Regions from separate parts of the Homo sapiens genome. Here regions 1, 2 and 3 are each linked to region 4. The links come from fine-mapping of genetic effects on gene expression. A gene starts in region 4. Each other region holds a variant in brackets. All regions are shown on one strand. Distances are between the middles of the regions. Region 1 overlaps ZC3H3 (zinc finger CCCH-type containing 3). Region 2 overlaps ZC3H3 (zinc finger CCCH-type containing 3). Region 3 overlaps ZC3H3 (zinc finger CCCH-type containing 3). Region 4 holds the start of ZC3H3 (zinc finger CCCH-type containing 3).

What was found. PIP is the estimated chance that this variant, and not a neighbour inherited with it, causes the effect.
Region 1: its variant is the best candidate, but not a certain one, in a credible set for the expression of ZC3H3 in whole blood (INTERVAL, PIP 0.88).
Region 2: its variant is the best candidate, but not a certain one, in a credible set for the expression of ZC3H3 in subcutaneous fat (GTEx, PIP 0.85).
Region 3: its variant is the best candidate, but not a certain one, in a credible set for the expression of ZC3H3 in nasal epithelium (TOPMed, PIP 0.62).

Annotation. Positions count from the first base shown.
Region 1 is chr8:143,451,874-143,454,552 of GRCh38, forward strand. All of the region lies in intron 9 of ZC3H3 (zinc finger CCCH-type containing 3), which reads right to left. Among named protein-coding and RNA genes, the nearest start is that of MAFA, 22 kb to the left of the region's middle. The variant A/G (reference allele first, on the strand shown) is at 1,519.
Region 2 is chr8:143,502,156-143,504,834 of GRCh38, forward strand. All of the region lies in intron 4 of ZC3H3 (zinc finger CCCH-type containing 3), which reads right to left. Among named protein-coding and RNA genes, the nearest start is that of SNORD149, 2.8 kb to the right of the region's middle. The variant C/T (reference allele first, on the strand shown) is at 1,555.
Region 3 is chr8:143,482,106-143,484,784 of GRCh38, forward strand. All of the region lies in intron 4 of ZC3H3 (zinc finger CCCH-type containing 3), which reads right to left. Among named protein-coding and RNA genes, the nearest start is that of SNORD149, 23 kb to the right of the region's middle. The variant A/G (reference allele first, on the strand shown) is at 1,405.
Region 4 is chr8:143,539,882-143,542,560 of GRCh38, forward strand. ZC3H3 (zinc finger CCCH-type containing 3) reads right to left here and starts at 1,566. Exons shown (of 12, transcript NM_015117.3): 1 at 1,495-1,566. The coding sequence starts at 1,540. It also overlaps the pseudogene RN7SKP175.

The DNA of each region.
Region 1 (2,679 bases), 88 kb before region 4:
ATCCCTGTACTTCCCGCTAAGTGCCACCGTAACAAACCCAAGCCACCTCTGGCTGCGGAGAAGGTGCTGATGGAAGGGATCGGGGCACGACTGGTGCTGGGTGCCCTTGGGCTGCTTCCTGCCCCATCCAAGACTTGGAGTCAAGGAAGCCACAGCCCAGAAATGCCCAGAGGCACAGGCAAAGGGCAGCCCAGCAAGACAGAAGGTCTCGGGCAACAGCCATCTATTCCAGCCAACACGCAAAACCACTGCACCCCCAGCCAGATCAGCAAAGGCTGAGGAGGGAGCCTGGACTCAACCCTGGCCAGGAGGCCCTTCCCTTCCTTGCCGGGGTGGTGAAAAGCCAGGACATTCACCCCTTCTCCATCCCCCACGGAGTCAGTGGAGGCCATGTGGAAGAGGCACTGTGGAACTCCTTCCCCCAAGGCAGGGAGGGAAGGTTCAGGGAAGGTCTGTTTTCCACACCACCCTCCACAGTGTCAATGAGGCCAAGTGCAGGGAGCTGGGTTTCCACTCCTAGCTGGCAAGAAGGAGGCAGCCCCTCCACCCAACAGCCAGCATGACTAGGCTCCCACAGAAAGTGGCTGCTCACACTAAGAACAAGGGAGGCTCCAAGCTCGGTGAAGAGGGGCAGCGCCAACGCTGACAGACAGGGCGTCAGAATTATTTCATAAAGACAGAACAGCATCACAAAGACACTTCTACATGCAATACAAACATGCTGGAAACAGAAGAAATAGAAAGTATCAACAGAGAAAAAGAAGATACAGTAGAACCAAATGAAAATTTTAGAACTAAAAAATACAATAACTGAAATAAAAAACTCAGTGTGTGGCACAACAGCTGAATGGATGAGACAGAGAACTGGAAGACAGAATAACAGAAATTAACCCATCTGAACAACAGAAAGAAAATAAGGTTTAAAAAATGAACAGAGCCTTCGGGACCTTGGGACCACAACAAAAGACCTAACATTCATGTAACTGGAGATGCAGAAACAGAGCAAAAAGAACTCAAAGAAATAATACAAACTTTACAAATTTGGTAAAACACATAAGCCTATAGATTCAGGAAGTTGAGCAAACCTCAGACAGGATAGACCAAAGACATCTACCCCAGATGTCAGACAGGATAGACCAAAGACATCTACCCCAGATGTCAGACAGTGAAAGTTAAAGACAAAGAAATAATCTTCAAAGCAGCCAGAGAGAAACTACATTATGTTTGTTTTTTTGAGACAGGGTCTCACTCTCTTGCCTAGTGGTACAATCATAGATCACTGCAGCCTCGACCTCCAGGGCTCAAGCAATCCTCCCAACTCAGCCACCTGAGTAGCTGGGACCACAGGCGCATGCCACCATGTGTGACTAATTTTTGTTTTTTTGTTTTTTTTTTTAAAGAGATGGGGTTTTGCCATGTTGACCAGGCTAATCTCAAACTCTTGGGCTCAAGCAGTTTGCCCACCTGGTTCTCCCAAAATGTTGAGATTACAGGAACGAGTCACAGCACCCCACAGAA[A/G]CCACATTTTACCCACTGGGGAAAAATTCAAACAACAGTGGATTTCTAACTAGACACCATGGAGGACATAAGGAAGAGGCATAACATTCTTCAAGCTCAAAAGAAAGAACTGTCAACACAGAATCCCATATTCAGTGAATTATCCTTCTGGAATAAAGGGGAAATCAAGACATTCTCTGATGAAGAAAAACAATGTCACCAGCAGTCTTACCCTAAAAAGTGGTTAAAGTTCTCCAAACAAAAAGGAAACAAAAGAAAAAGGCTTGGCACAACAGGAAGGAATAAAGAACAAGATAAGCAAAAATATGGATAAACATACCAGACTTTCCATCTCTTCCCCAGTTTTTAAAATTATGTTTGATGACTGAAATAAAAATTATAACTGTGTCTGTTGTGGTTCTAACTTCTGTAGAGGAAGTATTCCAGATGGTTATAAAAGGGGAGGTTAAGGGAGATGAGGGAAGGTAGGGTTTCCACACTTCACTCAAACTGGCAAAACGACACCACCAGCAGACGTGGATCAGTCATGCAAATATAATATAATACCCAAGGTAAGCACTACAAAAGCTATATAGTGGTCCTCCCCTTTCCACTGTTTCACTCTCTGCAGTTTCAGTTACCTGAAGTCAACTGTGGTCCAAAAATATTAAATGGAAAATTCCAGAAATAAACAATTCATAACTTTTTCTTTTTTTTTTTTTTTTCCCAGATGGAGTTTCACTCTTGTTGCCCAGGGCTGGAGTGCAGTGGTGTGATCTCGGCTCACTGCAACCTCCATCTCCCGGGTTCAAGCAATTCTCCTGCCTCAGCCTCCCAAGTAGCTGGGATTACAGGTGCCTACCACCACACTCAGGTAATTTTTTTTTTTTTTGTAACTTTAGTAGAGACAGGGTTTCACCATGTTGACGAGGCTGGTCTTGAACTTCTGACCTCAGGTGATCTGCCCACCTTGGCCTTCCAAAGTGCTGGGATTATAGGTGTGAGCCATCGTGCCTGGCCAACAATTCATAATTTTTTTTTTTTTTTTGAGATGGAGTCTTTCACTGTCACCCAGGCTGGAGTGCAGTGGCGCAGTCTCGGCTCACTGCACTGCAAGCTCCGCCTCCCGGGTTCACGCCATTCTTCTGCCTCAGCCTCCTAAGTAGCTGGGACTACAGGCGC
Region 2 (2,679 bases), 38 kb before region 4:
AACCTGGTCTCAAACGTCCGGCCCAGGACTGTGAGAAGTCAGCGTCTGATGCTGAAGCCCCAGTCTGTGCTACTGTGTGACACGGCCCCAGCCGACGAAGACAGTGCCCAAACCAGAAGACGGGCAGGAGGTGGGGCAGGGTGGCTGGCGTCCCAGGAGGCTGTGCAGGCACACCTGCTCATTAAGGAGACACGCGTGGGGAGCGCAGCATCGCAGTGAGGACCCCTCCCGTCCCCAGGCTGAATTCCTCTTTAATGAGACGCCACTTTGGAGAAGCGTTTCAGAGCCCTTCAAAATCCTGGCCTAACTCTCGTCAAAACTGCACAGATTACTTAAGATTTACCGCACAGACACAAACTAAAATAAAATAAAATAAGGCAGCCCAGTGAGAGGCAGCCTCGTGACAGGACCATTTGTAGTCAGATGGAAAAGCCTCCGATTCATCTGCTTAAGCACAGCAGCTTCTGTTTATTTCGCACTTTCATGTCAAATGAATTTGGAAAGAGAAAAAAAGTGACAAGCAGTTAGGGATATAAGTCACATTTCAGCTTCAGTTCAGATTAATGAACTTGCTGGAGCTGGTGAGGGCACCGGCAAATCTACAAATCTCAGAACAACAAAAAAATTAAATCCCCTCAGCAGAGCCTCAGCCTTCAGGGTGACTCCTCCAAAACCCTTCACTGACCTTCTGCCTCGCACCCCTGCATTCCAGGCCCTCTGGGACAGGCTTCACTTCAAGGCAGCAGTCCTGGGGCCCGGGGGAGGGCTGGCCAAGGCCGGCTCTCAGGGACCACTGTGGCATGGCCGAGGTATGCGTAAGGCAGCAGTACAGTAAGCTCCCAGGGTCCCCGAGCCAGAGCAACAGCCCCGTCCTGTGTATTTGGCAGATGCGACGGGCACCACGCTCAGCAGAACAACCCAGTCCCATGCCTCAGCTTCTGGGGAGAGGTGGCACATGGCCAGCACACCGCCAGCATGCCCCCGTCAGCTGTTGCCCCGCCCCAAGCAGCCACATGGCCGGGCATCTGCAGGCCAGGGCAACGCGGCCTCTGATGGGAGCACAGGTGGCACCGTGGATGCCACCCGTTGAGGCAGGAGTCCCGTTCTGCCCTTGGCATACAGGCACTGCTCCTTTTCTCCTCCCACCCTCTGCCCCACCCCAGTCTCCACACATGATGTCTGGCGTGTGCCTCAATGGTGTGCCCATCCTCAGAGACCCTGGCTGGCAGCACACAGAAGCCCCAGAAGCTACTGCCCAGCAGCCTCTGCCTTCCATCTGACAACGACGAGCACTGGCCGGCCACAAACCTGAGGCCACTGGTCAGCACCCAGCCATCTCCCGACCACCTCCCCCAGCACCCAGCCATCCCCCGACCACCTCCTCCAGCACCCAGCCATCTCCCCAACACCTCCCCCAGCACCCAGCCGGCTCCACCACCACCTCCCCCAGCACCCAGCCGGCTCCACCACCACCTCCTCCAGCACCCAACTGTCTCCACCACCACCTCCTCCAGCACCCAACTGTCTCCACCACCACCTCCCCCAGCACCCAGC[C/T]GGCTCCACCACCATCCCCTCCAGCACCCAGCCATCCCCCGACCACCTCCTCCAGCACCCAGCCATCTCCCGACCACCTACCTCCTCCAGCACCCAGCTGGCTCCCCACCGCCTCCTCCATGTTCAGGTCCAGAGAAAGCCGCTGACAGGGAGGAGAGGCCCCAGCCCCTATTACAAACCCAGCCATCAACGGGCCCTGACGCTGTCCTCCAGCCTTCCACATGGGCCCAACATGACCACCAGGCCGACAGTAAGTTTCTACTTAAATTAGGAGGGGGAGAGAGAGGGCGCGTGTGCCAAATCACCCCCTGGGACAGGGCAGAGGCCTAGACTCAGGCCGGGCACTCACTTGCCTACCCTCCTTCCCTCGGGCTGCAGGGAAGGGGAGTTTCTAGAGCTTCCCAGAGGAGGGAACAGGCCTAATCACCCTGAGCCCTCCCCAGTGCCCAGGGCAGAGCTAGGGCCAATAGCTCAGGGCCTGGGGCTCTCCAACCGAAAGCTGAGAGGAACTGCAGAGGGGTCCTGGGGGCTCATGGCCAGGAGAGGGGCCCCTTCTCGTGCCTCCTCAGGGCGGTGCAGTCCCCGCCATGAGCATCACAGCCAAGGGGAGGGGACGGGAAAAGAGGGCAGGGGAGGTCCCAGGGACAGGGTCAGAGAGAGGACAAGGTGAGGGCTGTTGTCAGCAGCAGAGCTGTGCAAGCTTCACTGCGGCAGCCTGTGTTACTGTTTCTTGTCCCCACCTTGGGCAGGGCCCAGTCCCATTCCTCTCAGGACGGGTGGTAGAGGTCCTGCCCCCTCCTCCGTCTTTGGGGTTCCAGCTCAGGCCCTGTCCTGAACACCCCACCACAATCAAGCCTAGAGACCCTACCCATTTCGCATGGTACAAGCAGGCAGGGACGGGCTGTCAGGTTCACGCTGCACTGCGCTGCCCCCAACTACACCCTACCCAAGATGCTCAGCCACTCCCAGCACCTGGGACCTTCATGTGCATCCTGGGGCAGGGTCAGCCTGGCCTTCACACACAGACCCCCAGGGCCTTCCCTCAACACTCAGAGCCCCCTGGGCCTCACTGTACTCCCCACTGCCGTCCCTTCGCAGAGCCTCTGCCAGCGGCTCCCTCTCCTC
Region 3 (2,679 bases), 58 kb before region 4:
CACTCAGGTCCTGCTGGCCACAGCCCCCATGCAGCCTCTCTCCAGCCTAGAACTCCAGTTCTCCTGGGAAGTTCTGGTTTCTGGAAAGCACTGTGCTCCCTCCTGGCGCCAGGTCTTTGCACGTGCTGTCCCTCTGTCCAGATCCCAGGGCAGGCCTGAGGCCAAGTGCAGATGTCACAGCACTGGGGAGGCCGGCCCTACTTACCACTGGGGAAAATGAGCACAGGGGCCGTATCTGCAAAGACCACTGCTGCACCCCTGGCCCTGCGGATGTGCCGGGCACGCAGGGGGCTCTGTAAATGTGTGTTGCGAGAACACACCCAAGTGTGTGCCACCCTGGGGCTCCCAGGACCTTAAGAGGTCCTAAGGGAGGAGTGTGGGGTGGGGAAGGGTCAGGAGGCCCTGGTCAGTTACAGACACTCAGGAAGGAGACCTGTGGCAGAGAGGTGGCTGCCAGGGCTTGGTCAGCAGATACAAGGAGTGGGCTCAGGCAGCAAGGGCCAGGCGCTGGGAATGCGGGCTGGGGCAAGATGGGCTCTCTGAGAACAAAGGGAGCAGCGGGGCTCAAGGAGGGAGGCATGGTCAGAACACATGCCCTGAGAGCTCCGAGAAGGGCGAGCCTGTCCCTGTCTCCCCAGGACGATGGCAAGGCTGCTACGGACGTGACACAGGGACGTGCAATATGCAGACGTGGAAAGACCCTCGGGGGCATAAGTATGGTGACAGCAGGAGAGGCCAAGGGCTGAGCGAGGTCTTGGCCCGGCCCTAGCAGCCAGAAGAGGCAGGACCACAGGAGCAGGTACCGGGCCACGGGGACACGACCTCAGGGCCTTCTAGGCCGGGGTTGTGTCTGTGTGTGGGCCGGGGACCCAGCAGCCCCTGGCCAGGCCGCCCAGGCCAGTGGCAACGTGCAGTAAACAGGCAGTCCAGCTGAGACACAGAGAAAACAACCGGAGAAGCATTTTCAGGAAATGGAGCACAATTTTTCGAAGCTTGGAGCCCGAGCGGGGAGTGCGAAGTCAGCAGAAGAGGAGCGGCCGGGGGGAGGCGGCGCCGCAGCGAATCCCCAAGTAGGTCAGGCAGAGCTGCGCCATGACAGGCACTAAACTGCTTAAGTGGGGCTTTCCACTGGAAACGCTGACACCCCCATCACCGTGCTGGCTCGGGAGGGCGAGCATGCATGTGTGTCCATGCGTGTGCGCGTGTGGGGCTGGCTGGAAGCCTCCCTCCCGGTTTCTCCTGGTGCTGAGCCACTGCGGCCCCCGAATGGGTTGGCCAGGCTACATGGGGCCCTTGGCTGGAGAGGCCCAGCCCGTGAGGCTGGGGCAATGCAGGGGAGGTGGTTCTACTGGACAGACACTCACAGAATGTCCTGAGTTCCGGAGGAGGAAGACAGAGTCCCTC[A/G]TGGGAGGGGCCCAAGCTGGGCCGGCAGGGAGGGGCGCTCAGGCCAGACAGAGCAGAGGCGTGCAGTGGGGGTGCTAGGCGGGCTCCCGGCTCCTGGACCCTGCCCCCACGATCTCAGGGGCAGGGCTAAATGCTCAAGGGCCTGTGGCTGCCAGGGCTGAAATCTGACTACGTGGTGGCCACGCAGGCCTCACGATGGCTATGGCCACCTCATCTCACAGAAAGAACCCTCTTCTAACTTACTCCTCACAAGTCTGGCCCCCTATCCTCCAAACCCCTATACCCAGACCGTGGGGCCCTCACCAGCTCCAAGGGGCCTCCAGGTACCTGGGGCAGTAGCTGCTGTTCAGCAGGGGCTCCGGCACCATGGCCAGATGGGCTCTCTAGTCCCGCTGTCACCCCCACAGCATCTACCTCCCAGTATGGGGGCCTGCAGAGACCGTCCAGCCGCTTGGCTTTCCAGGATACACCTTCAGCAGGCAGGCAGGGTTACAGGCCTGGGTGGGAGCTGAGAGCCCTGCACCAGCGGCCAGGGGCGCCATGAGGGGAAAGAGCCATGCAGCCTTAGGGACAGCAGCCTTGTTTGGGGGCCCCTGAGGACAGGGACAGCCTTGAGTGCGACTGGTCCAGCTGAGGCTGAGCACGGCTGGCTCCCCCGGCCCCTGGGCTGACTCGTGGGGTGGAGGCTCTGTTGTGACATCTGAGGACTTCCTCACTGGGCACTGGTCCTTCCGAGGGCCATCCCTGCCCCGTCTCACCCCAGTAATGAATAAGAAGGATTCGGAGGCGCCTCTGCAGCCTGGCTGGGTGGCAGGGGGCAATACTAATGACACTGCCTCCGTTACAAACGTCGTGCTCCATTATGAGGGGCTGGGACTATTTTATGTATTTTATGTGCTCACATCTATTCAATTGGTATTTCGATCAATGGATGCATTACAAGCTTTCCCTTTAAGAGCCTAATAAACAACAAGATGGAAAGTAAAATTCTCCATAAAATGACACTTTTAAAAATCCATTTCAGCTGAAGCTATTGGTGTTTTGTATGTCAGCTGCAAAAAAACAAGTATTAGTGGGACTTCATGGCCCCGGAGTGCCGAGTTCAGCTCGTCCGGCAGAGGTGCCAGGCGGCCAGGTGCAGCTGTCCTTGGCGGGCCCGCGACCCTCTGCACCTGTGCCACCCTTTGGGCTGGGTCATCGGCCCAGGACCCACTCTGTCTGTGCCAGCTACTGAGGGGCAGGCTGGCCAGGAATCCTGCCTAGGCCCTCAAGGAC
Region 4 (2,679 bases):
GGCTAGAGTCCTACTGCAGTGAACTGACACAACCACAGGACTTTCCAAATAAGTCCCTGGATAGCTACCCCGGTGCAGGAGGGCCAGGAACACAGGCAAGGGCGGCAGCAGCCAGCCTCCCAGTTATCAGCATTCCCCCACCACAGGCCCTGCCCCCGGGGGCACAGAAAGCCACGTCCAGACGTGTTGACGCCCCAGAGCAGGTGTGATGGGAGCTCAAGAAGTGTCCCCAAGTGGGAGGCAGCCCACCTGGCCTCTTATCCATACACACTTTCCCAATCCTTAAGTCTTCCCTTTGTGAGAGTAAAAGCAAAAAGGATTTTTAATTTTTAAAGCTTTTTTTTGTTTGGTTGGTTTTGGCTTTTTATTTGAGATGTGGTTTTTCTCTGTTGCCCAGGCTGGAGTGCAGTGGCCCAATCACGGCTCACTGCAGCCGGGACCTCCAGGGCACAAGCAAACCTTCCACCTCTGAGTAGCTGGGACTACAGGCGCAAGCCACCACGCCCATCTCACTTTTTAAAATTTTTCTGTAGAGACGGGCTCTCGTCATGTTGCCCAGGATGGTCTCAAACTCCCGGGCTCAAGCCATCCTCCTGCCATAGCCTCCCAAAGTGCTGGGATTACAGGTGTGGGCCACTGCGTCCGAACATGGATTTTCTTTTTAAGTTTAGAAAGACCAATTTGGGTTTTTTAATGTTTAAGTGTGGAAGCTGAAGCCTGTTCAGTCTGCGCCTGGAATGGCAAGGGGAGTGTGACTGTTCGGAGAAAAGGGGCATCAAAACCGGGCGTCGAGGCTGGGAGCGGTGGCTCATGCCTGTAATCCCAGCACTTTGGGAGGCCGAGGCGGGTGAATCACCTGAGGTCGGGAGTTAGAGACCATCCTGGCCAACATGGTGAAACCCCGTCTCTACTCAAAATACAAAAATTAGCCAGGCGTTCTGGCGCCTACCTGTAATCCCACGTACTCCGGAGGCTGAGGCAGGAGAATCACTCGAACCCAGGATGAGGAGATTGCAGTGAGCCGTGATCGCGTCACCGCACCCCAGCCTGGGTGACAGAGCAAGACTCTGTCTCAAAAAAAACCGGGCGTCAAGGAAGGAACCCGCGTGCGCCCTTAGCCTGCTCTGCCGAAATGAGCCATGAACTAGTCCCAGCCCCGCAGTGGGGCGCGGGGAGAGAGTGGGCGCCGGGGGACGCGACAGCCCGCGGTGGTGGGGAGGGCCGCCGCCCCCCGCGGGTTACTAAGCGACGGCCCTGCCTCCACCCTCTGCAGCCCCAGCAGGGCCGGCACCACTCCCTCGACAAAGCTGGAGCCGGGGACTGACCCGGGCCCTGAGCCGGCCCACAAGTCCTGGCGGACCCTACCGTCCCCCACCCCAGCCGCCACCCAGAACACGCGGGCGGTGAGCGACCCCTTCGACAAGGGGGCAGGGGACCCGCCGCGAGGTGAGGGGGAAAGAAGGGGACTCGCGTCCCGGCCCCGGCCGGACCTACCCTGCAGTAGGCGGATCTGCCGCCGTAATATCTCCTTTTCCTCCATCTCCCGAGTCCGCGACGGCCGGCCAGGCCCCCACGACGTCATCGCTACGCGACCTTTTTCCCGCGGGCGGGGCGGAGCGGGCCAGGGCGGAGCTGCCAGGAGCAGGCCCGGATGTCTGCCGACCGCCGAGGACCCGCCGTCGCGCTGACAACGGCAGCGGAGAGGCAGAGCCGCGCACGCGCAGAACGAGGCGGGGACGTCACTAGTGAGCGCCGGGAAGTGGCCTGGTAACGGCTGGGAAGGGACTGCTTGGGCTCTGGGAGGCCGCGCGGGCCCAGCTTGTGCAGTCCGGGATCGCGTCCCCTTGGGAGACTTGGCGAGGGGCGAGACCTGGGGCCCACCCAGCCCATACCGCAGTTCCTTCCCACAGTCCCTGCGTTTCATTTCGCCCCAGTTGAGTGTTGGGGGGGGGGGGGTCTACGCGGGGACCCATGGGAGAAGGGCCAGTTAACAATTACTCTTGACCCAGGAGGGTCTGTGAAACCTCTTACTGTGGCCAGAGGAGAAGACATCGGAGAGCAAGGTTCCCTGGATAGACATGTTGAACCTCTGAAAACATGAAAGTTTTTAGTTCGTCATTGGAAACATGTACAAGTGTAAACCTCTGTGCGCTGTTGGTGGGAATGTAAATGGCGCAGCACCGCAGAAAACTATGGAGATTCCACAAAAGGTTAAAAGTAGAACTACCGGATATGAGGGCGATCTGGCTGCGACACCTGTCATCCCATTGATCGCCAGGGTTGATTCGGCTGATCTGGCTGGCTAGGCGGGTGTCCCCTTCCTTCCTCACTGCTTCATGTGCGTCCCTCCCGAAGCTGCAGCTCAGTCGAAGAGAACGACCATACCCAATAGAAGAGCTGGGCTTCCCTGGTAGAACCTCCAAACAAGCTCTCAAGGTCCATTTGTAGGAGAAGGTAGGGTAGTCAAGATTCCAGACACATCCAAATGAGGCGCTGCATGTGGCAATCTGCCTTTCTAGGAGAAAACAAAAATGGAACTACGGTATGATCCAGCAACCCTACTTCTGGCTATATTCCCAAAAGAATGGAAACCAGAGACTCAAACATATTTGTGCCCCCATGTTCACTGCAGCATTTTTCCCAATAGCCAAAAGACGGAAACAACCCAAGTGTCCACGG